Linked DNA regions of Homo sapiens: region 1 is linked to region 2. Evidence: fine-mapped QTL for protein levels in blood plasma. Region 2 holds a variant in brackets. A gene starts in the other region. All regions are shown on their forward strands.

What was found. A credible set is the group of variants that fine-mapping cannot tell apart. PIP is the chance, under the fine-mapping model, that this variant and not a neighbour inherited with it causes the effect. Protein levels are from antibody-based Olink assays in UK Biobank. Linkage for the fine-mapping came from a reference panel and not from the study's own genotypes, which makes the PIPs less certain.
Region 1: it holds the start of NELL2, and the variant in region 2 is the best candidate, but not a certain one, in a credible set for the plasma level of the NELL2 protein (UK Biobank, PIP 0.64).

What each region holds. Positions count from the first base shown.
Region 1 is chr12:44,874,006-44,879,377 of GRCh38, forward strand. It overlaps NELL2 (neural EGFL like 2), which reads right to left and starts at 2,310. Exons shown (of 20, transcript NM_001145108.2): 1 at 1,810-2,310; 2 at 1,220-1,348. The coding sequence starts at 1,864. RefSeq lists enhancers at 2,433-2,934, 2,935-3,434.
Region 2 is chr19:7,764,344-7,769,715 of GRCh38, forward strand. CLEC4M (C-type lectin domain family 4 member M) reads left to right here. Exons shown (of 7, transcript NM_014257.5): 3 at 842-925; 4 at 1,295-1,864; 5 at 2,313-2,464; 6 at 3,173-3,285; 7 at 4,495-5,262. The coding sequence ends at 4,645. Among named protein-coding and RNA genes, the nearest start is that of CLEC4M, 3.8 kb to the left of the region's middle. The variant G/A (reference allele first, on the strand shown) is at 2,399.

The DNA.
Region 1 (5,372 bases), not on the chromosome of region 2:
GAGCAAACTTGTTTTAAGTAAATGTAACACATGTGAATTTCCTCCTTTCCCAACTCTAAGCTTTGGTTTTAGTGTCCATGGTGACACATACTGGCTATATCAGGCAACAACACCACTACAGAAACACTCAAGTTTTATTTTATTTCTATTTCTTGGTAGCATATTTTCCGAAGTGGTTTCCTTTTGCATATCCAACTCTTTAGTAATTATGAATTGCACTTTCAAAGCCATGGCACCAAAATAACAACAACAACAACAAAAATCTGGGTGAGGTAGGGCAAGAAGCTTTAGTCCATTAGATATGTTAAACCAAACTCCATTCTCTTTTGCCTTCATGTATTCTTCACCATACATGAATCTAGTCTGTCTGTACACGTTTAGCTACCTTTTAGAAGCTCTTATTACGGCAACTTTCCACAAACAAGCAATCCTCAAAAGCTCTAATCAAAGTTGAAGGTTTGCTGCATTGGAATTTGCTTCTGACTGCACAACACATTTAAATATAATTTGAGATGTAGACATTTGTGCCCAGCCAATATCCATTGACTTCAAAAAAAAGTTGTAAAATCGTAAGTACACAATTAATGATAATATGAGATACACTTCTAGATTAACATTTACTTGAAATCTTTCCAAAATACTTTTGAGACCATTATTCCCTTTCTCTTGTTATTGGTGGATGAAGGAAGAATGAGGGTCTTTCAAAGATAAATTTTGCCTCAAATATACTGCGACTGTGATATGCAGTAAGTAAAAATATTCAGAGGCATTAATTTTTCCAGAAAGCTACCCCCATAAAACAATTCCTCCAAGCAGGGCACCATCGTACCTGAAACTTTCAGAGATCAGTGTCTTAACTAAGATTAAGCTATCCTTTTTCCTACCTAAATCAATTTCACCCAAACGAGGCGTTTGTGTTATAATTCATTGTTCCCCAGATTCTAAAATCAACCATCTGCCATAGGAGTTTCTGCTCAGTAATTAAGGGACTATCCATTAGAACTGGCAAGAGTACAAAGTACGAAGGAGAAGGGTGAGGCAGGGGAGAAAAAACCACTTAAAAGAGATAGGGATATGTGTCTCACACTGGCCCTTCTACACCTCAGCTAAAGTACTGTCATCCATGAGGCAATACAAAGTTAGGACAAGCGGCAAGAGCAACTCCTGCCGGGGTTATCGGAACTGAAATCACAGTGGGGATGCAGCACGCCGGGCATACCTTGAAAGAGAAAGGCTTTCGTCCCATTATGCAGCCCCGGGACCTGACGCACTCCGGTCGTGGACTCCCCAAGTTCTAACTCTGTTAAGACGTCAATCTGTAGGGAAGGGTCCACACCAAGCCCCCAAACTGGTGAGGGGTATGAGGTGGGAGAGAGAAAAAGGAAAAGCTCCATCAAAATGCAAGTCTCTTCCTCCAGGGCAGCAAAGAACCGCGTTTTCGCGACAATATTGGGAACTGAAGATGAGAGGCGACTGCCTCCTCCTCCGCCGAGAGCCTTACCTGAGATCAGCAGCCAAGCTTTAAATAGCGGAGCACCCAGTCCCGTTTCCATGACCTCCTTTAAACCCTTCTCTCTGCAAAGTTCCCCCTCAGCCCTCCGACCCTGGACTAGGGGCGTGATCCGCCTCGCGGTCTCCAAGGCAAGCACAGAAAAAAAAAAAATCCATATCCAAACCCGCCCCCTTACTCCAAGCTTCCCACTCCAGACCTACTTTGGGTCCGGGAAAAGCGAGGCTTCCCCAGCCAGCCCATGCTGCCCCGAGGCGGGAGCCATCCCTTTCCCCAGCCCCAGCTCTGCGGCCACTCACCTGCTCCGAGACCGAAGATCAAACAGAATGTTCTCAGTAAGACCCGAGACTCCATGGTGCGGATCAGCTCAGTCCATCGTCTCCCTCTTTAAAAATAAAAATAAAAATCGAAGAGGTTCTTGGAATCAAGCGGGAAAATAACGTTTGTCTCTCCTGCTGCTGCCTCGGATTTACTGATCAGTAGGATTAATACGCTTTGGTTGCCTAAGAAAGAAAAGGGAGGCCTCCCCAGGCGCGTGAAGAACTTAGACCCTCCAATGCGCACATCATTCCCACACGCAGGGCCGAGGCGGCAGCGCGGCCCGGAGGGGGCCCGGAGGGAGGGGTCGGACTCGCCCCGGCGCGGCTCCGTCGGGGAATTAGCTCCCGAGCCGAATAAAAGCAGCCAAAGACTCGCACACCCGGTAGAAGGGGGGCGGCCCCAAGAAAGCCCGGGCTGGGGCGGCCCCGCACCCCCCCGTCTTCCCCGCCGCCCGAACCTGTTGTAAAGGCAGAGACAATGGAGAAAGCTCCGGGAGACGCGCGGAGAGACTGCTCCTCCGGGGAGGGAGGGGCGGGCCGGGGGAGGCGGGGTAAGGAGGAGGGAGGGGCCGCCGAGGGCGAGGCCGGCGCTCAGCGTCGGTCTCCCGCACGGTCTCCTGGATGCCAAACCCGGTCTAGGGAGCCCAGGAGCCGTTGCAGCCTCAGCTCTTCTCCCTCCCTCTCTCGATGACCCGGGCAATGCCAACCTCCTTTCGGGATTGAAAGCTCTAAATCCAAGGTGCTAAGTTGATGGGCGGTCTTTGCTCTCACCCCTCGATTTCGGGCGCGTGTCTTGAAAGACAGGAGAGAAAAAAGACCACCCAGCTGCAGGAGGCAAGGCTGGAGCGAGTAGCGCTCGCCTGCCCTTTAAGCAAAGGAGGGAAGCCCATGTGCACTCGTGCACTGGGCTCCGGAGCAGCCCCGGGGTGCAGGGCACTCCCCCTCCAGGGCGTGCGGAGGAAGGCCACCAAAACACGCTGCACTGCCGAGGTGGAGCTGGGCAAAGTAGGTAGAGACTGGTGGGGACGGATGGCGAGCCTGGGAAGCCCCGGGTGTCCTGGTGGAGAGGTTCCCTGCCGGGGGCGGGGCGCTGGAGAGCTTCCCCGGCGCGGAGAGCTTCCCGGGCGCGGAGAGCGCAGAGAACTTGGCCAGGAGGTGCTGGACAGCTCCGGAACCCGCGCGCCCCCTGCCAAATAAAGCGTGGAGACCCGGACTCGGGCTCTCTGGGACCAGCATACAGCAGAAGGCAAGGGGAACTGAGCCAGGGCGTCTGTTCACGCCGAAATATCTACCTACATAGAGGAGATGGTTAGAGAGAGAGAGAGAGAGAGAAATAAATAAATACGTAAATAAGCAGAGGGAGGAGATGGAGCCCAGGCGAGAGAGAAGAGCCATCCCACTGTTGACCACACTCATGCAGGCTCTACCTGCCCTTCACCACATATGTCCGGGACCATAAAAGTGGTGTCCTTTGAGATCCATTTTTCAGCAGGCACATGTATGTTCAAGATCAATGGTACATAATATTTTTTGAACATAGCCCTAAAATTTTTAGGTAAATTTTGAGGAATGGCATTCCACTTTCATTTTGGAAAAGTTAAGAGTTTAAAAAACCATTATGGTATTAATCTGTACAAAGATCAATTGGGTTTCTTAACCTTCCATGCAAACATGTGGGTACTGAATTCTCCAACTGGATACTAACAGCTACAGTTACCAAAATGCCTACTGGGTAGTCTGAGCCCCCTGCAAGGCAGGAGTATAATATACATTTTATCTATAGATATATAGTTATAGATATTATCATATAGTGGAATACATATACTATATTATACTATAGGGAAAGAGGTATTTTTAGATCTGCCCTTAGAATTTTTAAGACAAAAGATTCAGAATTCGGGAGCTCTTTTAAATTAATTTTTAATTCTCTCTTATCGAATTTCCCATTTAATTCTATTTGTAACTTTGTAAAGTTTGAGAAATATTTCAGTACTTACAAGTGATAAAGGATTGTCATATGCAATTTCCCAAATTTGAAAAACTATGCCAAATAAATAATACAATTTAATTAATCAATGAAAAGAAATTAATCATCAGAGAATTAAAGACCTTTCTACAGCTGTGCATCTAAAATATTCAATTGTAATAAGTATCTACAGAAGCTACACGAAATAAATTTTAAATAACGTAGCATTTAAAATGCTATCATTAGAGAAAAGAATAAAACATAAATATACATATGCACATATATATTTCCACATAAAAGTCCTCCTAACCAACCTGTGTTCAACCAACTCATGAAAGTAGGGATACTCTCGAGTTTCTCTGACTCTCATCCATATGCTGAAAGCTGGTGGTTAATGGGCTTATCTCCAGTACCATACACACTGAGGCTCCCTCCAGAACAGTGGTATTTGGTACCCAAAATAATTCTAGTTGAACCTGCTACTGTAATTATTTGACCTAATTAAATAGTATGGAAATCATTAAAATATGAGTATGGGGAGGTGTGAAGAGTTGTTTCTCTAAAACTAAGGTATAAGGTTTGGAAACCCATAGTAAAGGTGAGCCATTGTATTAGCTAGGGCAGAGTTTCTCAACCTGGGCAGGAGTTTTCAACATTATAACTACTAACATTTTGGGGCTGGATAATTCTTTATTGGGGCTGTCCTGTGCCTTGTAGGATGTTAGTTGAATTCTTGGTCTCTATCCACTGAATGCCAGTATTTTCAGTATTCCATTTTATCTATGTGTTCTTTTGACTATATCTCTTTGTGAAGCTTTTAAAATTGGTATTCTAGGGAATACAATATACATACTTAACTTTTCACCTTCTACCTAGAGTCCATACATTACCACTTCAGTTCGAATACAGAAGCTTTACTACCACATCAAATCCCTTTATCCTCAACTCTTTAGGTTGTAGTTGTCTTATGTATTATATCTACATACACTCAAACTCCTTTTAGACAATGTTAAAATTTTGCTTGCAATCATTGTTGTAGGCATAATAATATTCCAATCCCCTTCCCCTTAAGAAACAGTCTTTTCCAGTTCCTAATCAGTGGAACCTGTGTATGTTACCTCACATGGCAAAGGGGATTTAAGGTTGCAGATGGAATTAAGATTGTTAATCAGGTAACCTTAAAATAGGAAGATTATTTCAGATTATCTGGGTATGCCCAATATAATCACGAGGGCCCTTAAATGTGGAAGAAGGAGGCATAAGAGGAGGTCAGATTAATGCAATATGAGAAGAACTCGACTTCCTGTTGCTGACTATGAAGATGGGAAAATATAGAAGGGCTATGAGACAAGGAATATGGGAGGCATCTAGAAATTGGAAATGGCAAGGAAAAAGATTATCCCTTAGAGCCTCCAGAAAAGAATACAACCCTGCTGATAACTTGACTCTTGCCCAAAAAAGTCAAGACTGTTTTAGACTTCTGAACAACCATCCGTAAGATAATAAATTTGTGTTGTTTTAATCCACTAAATTTGTGGTAGTTGGTTACAGCATCCACGGAAAACTAATATAAGTA
Region 2 (5,372 bases):
TGCCTAGTGACCTTGCAGCTGCACAGCTAGAGAAACAGGGTCTTCACAATGCCTGGGAAAGGGAGAGATAAGGCTCACTAGCCACACACAGAAAAACAGGCAGTTAATTCTTTTTTATTTTATTTATTTAGTTTTTATTTTTATTTATTTATTTATTTTTTTTGAGACAGAGTCTTGCTCTGTCACCCAGGCTGGAATGCAGTGGCGCCATCTCGGCTCACTGCAAGATCTGCCTCCCAGGTTCATGCCATTCTCTTGCCTCACCCTCCCGAGTAGCTGGGACTACAGGCGCCCACCACCACCACGCCCGGCTAATTTTTTGTATTTTTAGTAGAGATAGGGTTTCACTGTGTTAGCCAGGATGGTCTTGATCTCCTGACCTTGTGATCTGCCTGCCTCAGCCTCCCAAAGTGCTGGGATTACAAGTGTGAGCCACCATGCCTGGCCAAAAAGGCAGTTAATTTTTAAAGGATTCCACCTCTTTCTCTTCCTCAGGGGGAATTGGGTTTTCTTACATACAACTGAGTTTTTGCTTACACATTCTTTAATTTCTTTTCATTCCTGTTCCACTGGGGAGGTGGACGCAGGTACCTGGGTTCCTGGGACCTGGGGAGGTGGGGGTTGGGACCTAAACTCCTGGGACTTGGGGAGGGAGAGGCTGGGGATGGGGTTCCTGGGTCCTGGGGAGGTTAGAGCTAGGGCCTGGATTCCCAGGTGTTGGAGTGGAGGGGGCTGGGGCTGGGGTTCCTGGGTCCTGGGGTGCTGAGGGATTAGGCCAGGCTCTCCCTGGGCCAGGCTCAGGTGGGAACACTGGCAGGCTGACGCATGTATCCTCTCTCAGGGTGTCTTGGCCATGGCGCCCTGGTGCTGCAACTCCTCTCCTTCATGCTCTTGGCTGGGGTCCTGGTGGCCATCCTTGTCCAAGGTCAGGGGCAGGTTCTGAGGGTCTGGGGTCCCCAGGCCTGGCCTTTTGGCTATGAACAGAGCCTGGAGTGGCCAGGTCTGGGAGGGAGGTGGGACTGAGAGCCAAGATGTTGTCCCTGGGGGTCTGTAGGGGCCTCTCCCACAGCCCCTCCCCACTCTAGAGCAGGACAGGAGAGGGAGGAGGAGGAGGGGAAGAACCTGGCTCTCCTTGGCCTTCTGTGCTGCCTTCTCCAGGTGTCAGTTTTCCTCATCTTCAAAGGGGATTAACTGAGACCTTGGCTCTCACAAATGATGTCTCTATGGGGCTCAGTTCAGGGCTTGGCACACAGTAGGTGTTTAATAATTGCAGTTCCTTTTCTTCTTGGCCCAGTGTCCAAGGTCCCCAGCTCCCTAAGTCAGGAACAATCCGAGCAAGACGCAATCTACCAGAACCTGACCCAGCTTAAAGCTGCAGTGGGTGAGCTCTCAGAGAAATCCAAGCTGCAGGAGATCTACCAGGAGCTGACCCAGCTGAAGGCTGCAGTGGGTGAGTTGCCAGAGAAATCCAAGCTGCAGGAGATCTACCAGGAGCTGACCCGGCTGAAGGCTGCAGTGGGTGAGTTGCCAGAGAAATCCAAGCTGCAGGAGATCTACCAGGAGCTGACCCGGCTGAAGGCTGCAGTGGGTGAGTTGCCAGAGAAATCCAAGCTGCAGGAGATCTACCAGGAGCTGACCCGGCTGAAGGCTGCAGTGGGTGAGTTGCCAGAGAAATCCAAGCTGCAGGAGATCTACCAGGAGCTGACGGAGCTGAAGGCTGCAGTGGGTGAGTTGCCAGAGAAATCCAAGCTGCAGGAGATCTACCAGGAGCTGACCCAGCTGAAGGCTGCAGTGGGTGAGTTGCCAGACCAGTCCAAGCAGCAGCAAATCTATCAAGAACTGACCGATTTGAAGACTGCATTTGGTGAGTTCCTGCACATCAAGGGTCCTTGGGCCTGAGATGGTCTCTGTGTGATGTGACTTTACTTGAGTTACCAACCCTGCCTGAGCCTCAGTTTCCTCCCCTGTGAAATGAGAACACGGGGTAACTGCGATCATTGCACTTGGTGTTCACAGTGGGCCAGGCACACAGTAGACACTCAGTTCAACCAATCCGCTGCCTTCTGTTCTGAGCTCTAAAGCTGCTAATTCTCCCAGTCTGGAAGAGATGGAGCCAGGACTCCTGGGTTCTCCTGGGGATCAGGGAGAGTCTTGGGAAGTAGGGAGAGGAATGGTCTCTCCCCATTCCAAGCGGTCCACCCAACATGGACAGTCAAGGAAGGGCCCTGATTTTCAAGGGCTTGAAGGCTGGGCAGATATGGGAATATGGACAACCTAATCTGAGCCCAGCCCTGACCAGCCTCCCCCAACAGAACGCCTGTGCCGCCACTGTCCCAAGGACTGGACATTCTTCCAAGGAAACTGTTACTTCATGTCTAACTCCCAGCGGAACTGGCAC[G/A]ACTCCGTCACCGCCTGCCAGGAAGTGAGGGCCCAGCTCGTCGTAATCAAAACTGCTGAGGAGCAGGTACACGTGGTGGGGGTCCTCGTCCTGGCCTGGGGCATGGCTTCTGGCCAACTGGGGAGGAGGTGCTCAGAGAGGATTTTGCAGAAGAGGGGCTTTGCTCTATTTGGAAAGATGGGAAGAGAAGGATATGAATGAAGGGGTCCCAGGTACCCTTCAAGCAAATACAAACCAGATCTGAACACATGTGAATATTTGGGGGAAACGTCAAATGTAAGCAAACCACCACAGCATGCTGCAGGTGTTTAACGGCCAGCTCTCCGGAGAGAAAATTCCTGATGTGTTGTGTTTGCCAATTTCCCCAGTGTAAATATTTCCACTGCGGCTGATTTCAAGCTGTGATGTGCTGTCACTCAGTGCAGAGCTGAAAGGAGATGTGCTGGACCAGCAATTAGTAGTGGGTCCAATGTGGCTCCAGTACATGAAACCCAGTCAGGAGTAAATTCATGTGGACATGCAAAATAGATAAACATGCAGCATTCACAGGAGCACATGAGGAGAGGCCAGCTGTGCATGCGTGCCTGCATGTCAGGACACACATGCCATGGGGATACAGATGTGAGAGGGGCTCAGACATGAGGAGGCTCAGGACCTGCTATATCAGAAAACTGCAGGTTAACTTGAAAGCAGAACTTTCTGCCAAGAGACGGGGAGGTGGAACCTGGAAAATGGGAAGCAGAGCTCCCTCCTGACTCCTCCTCTACCCTCCAGAACTTCCTACAGCTGCAGACTTCCAGGAGTAACCGCTTCTCCTGGATGGGACTTTCAGACCTAAATCAGGAAGGCACGTGGCAATGGGTGGACGGCTCACCTCTGTCACCCAGGTAGATTCTGGGAGAAAGGGACACTGTATCCAGTCGGGCTGGGTTCCTGCAACTCTGACTTGAGCTTTCCCTGGGGGTCCCCCCCAACCTCCCTGACCCCATAGGACTAAGAGTCTGGGGTTTTACTGAGTTGAGGAAGGTGGTCTTCATACCCACCTCCAGACAGGATGAAAGGTGCCAAGAATTCCACCAGCAGAGCTGCAGGAGGAGCTTGCCCTGTGGGTAGGTGTGTTAAAATACAGTGTATTAATAGGAAGTCTGAAGTCTAGTAAGGCCACCAGCTCAGGAGACAATTGCCATTTACACAAAGTGAGTAGCTTATCCTACCCACAGGTTCCTAGAGGGCGCACATTTCACAGCAGGGGGCCGCTGGGGAAGCAGCAGGGTCTGTCGTGAGGGAAAGTCATGGAGGGGACTGTGGGCCAGAGCTTTTATTATGGTTTGCATGGGGAGAAAAGGGCAAGGCCAGGCAAGCAGGCTTCAGATGGGCAGATATGAAGCATTTTGTGGGCTCTGGGGCATAGAGGCTGCCTAGCGGCCTGACACCTGGCCTTGGGGTGATTAGGGCAGAAAGATAGTGGCTTGGAGTGCAAGAGCCCAATAAGGCAGGTGGTTGGCAGTACAGACCCCAGACTGGTTGGTTTGTATTTTAAAATCACACTCTCGGCCAGGCGCGGTGGCTCACGCCTGTAATTCCGGCACTTTGGGAGGTCAAGGCGGGTAGATCACGAGGTCAAGAGATCAAAACCATGCTGGCCAACACGGTGAAACCCCGTCTCTACTACAAATACAAAAATTAGCTGGGTGTGGTGGCGTGCACCTGTAGTCCCAGCTACTCAGGAGGCTGAGGCAGGAGAATCACTTGAGCCCAGGAGGCGGAGGTTGCAGTGAGCCGCCAAGATCATGCCACTGCACTCCAGCCTGGCAACAGAGCGAGAATCTGTCTCAAAAAAAGAAAAAGAGAAAGAAAAGAACAAAGGATAAAAAAGAAAATCACAGCCTCAGTAGGAGTCCTCCCAAGGCTGGGATGCAGCAAGAGAGGCAGGAACTGAAGGCAACATGACTCGGGCATATTATGAGGTGTGGAGAGCAATGCATGTCCAGCATACACATGTAGGGCAGATGTTAAAGCATCAATATTACAGAAGGTAGGAGTGTGGCTCATCTACTGGGCAGGGCAGAGGCTCACATTCTGCATGGGCTTTGCAGCTTCCAGCGGTACTGGAACAGTGGAGAACCCAACAATAGCGGGAATGAAGACTGTGCGGAATTTAGTGGCAGTGGCTGGAACGACAATCGATGTGACGTTGACAATTACTGGATCTGCAAAAAGCCCGCAGCCTGCTTCAGAGACGAATAGTTGTTTCCCTGCTAGCCTCAGCCTCCATTGTGGTATAGCAGAACTTCACCCACTTGTAAGCCAGCGCTTCTTCTCTCCATCCTTGGACCTTCACAAATGCCCTGAGACGGTTCTCTGTTCGATTTTTCATCCCCTATGAACCTGGGTCTTATTCTGTCCTTCTGATGCCTCCAAGTTTCCCTGGTGTAGAGCTTGTGTTCTTGGCCCATCCTTGGAGCTTTATAAGTGACCTGAGTGGGATGCATTTAGGGGGCGGGCTTGGTATGTTGTATGAATCCACTCTCTGTTCCTTTTGGAGATTAGACTATTTGGATTCATGTGTAGCTGCCCTGTCCCCTGGGGCTTTATCTCATCCATGCAAACTACCATCTGCTCAACTTCCAGCTACACCCCGTGCACCCTTTTGACTGGGGACTTGCTGGTTGAAGGAGCTCATCTTGCAGGCTGGAAGCACCAGGGAATTAATTCCCCCAGTCAACCAATGGCATCCAGAGAGGGCATGGAGGCTCCATACAACCTCTTCCACCCCCACATCTTTCTTTGTCCTATACATGTCTTCCATTTGGCTGTTTCTGAGTTGTAGCCTTTATAATAAAGTGGTAAATGTTGTAACTGCAGATCCAGCCTCATCTGATTCAACTTTGTGTAATAAAATGGCGAGTTGCTTTTCCGTTGCCATAGGCCCCCAGGTTGCAAGTTATGTGCACTGGTCATGCCCAGATGAACC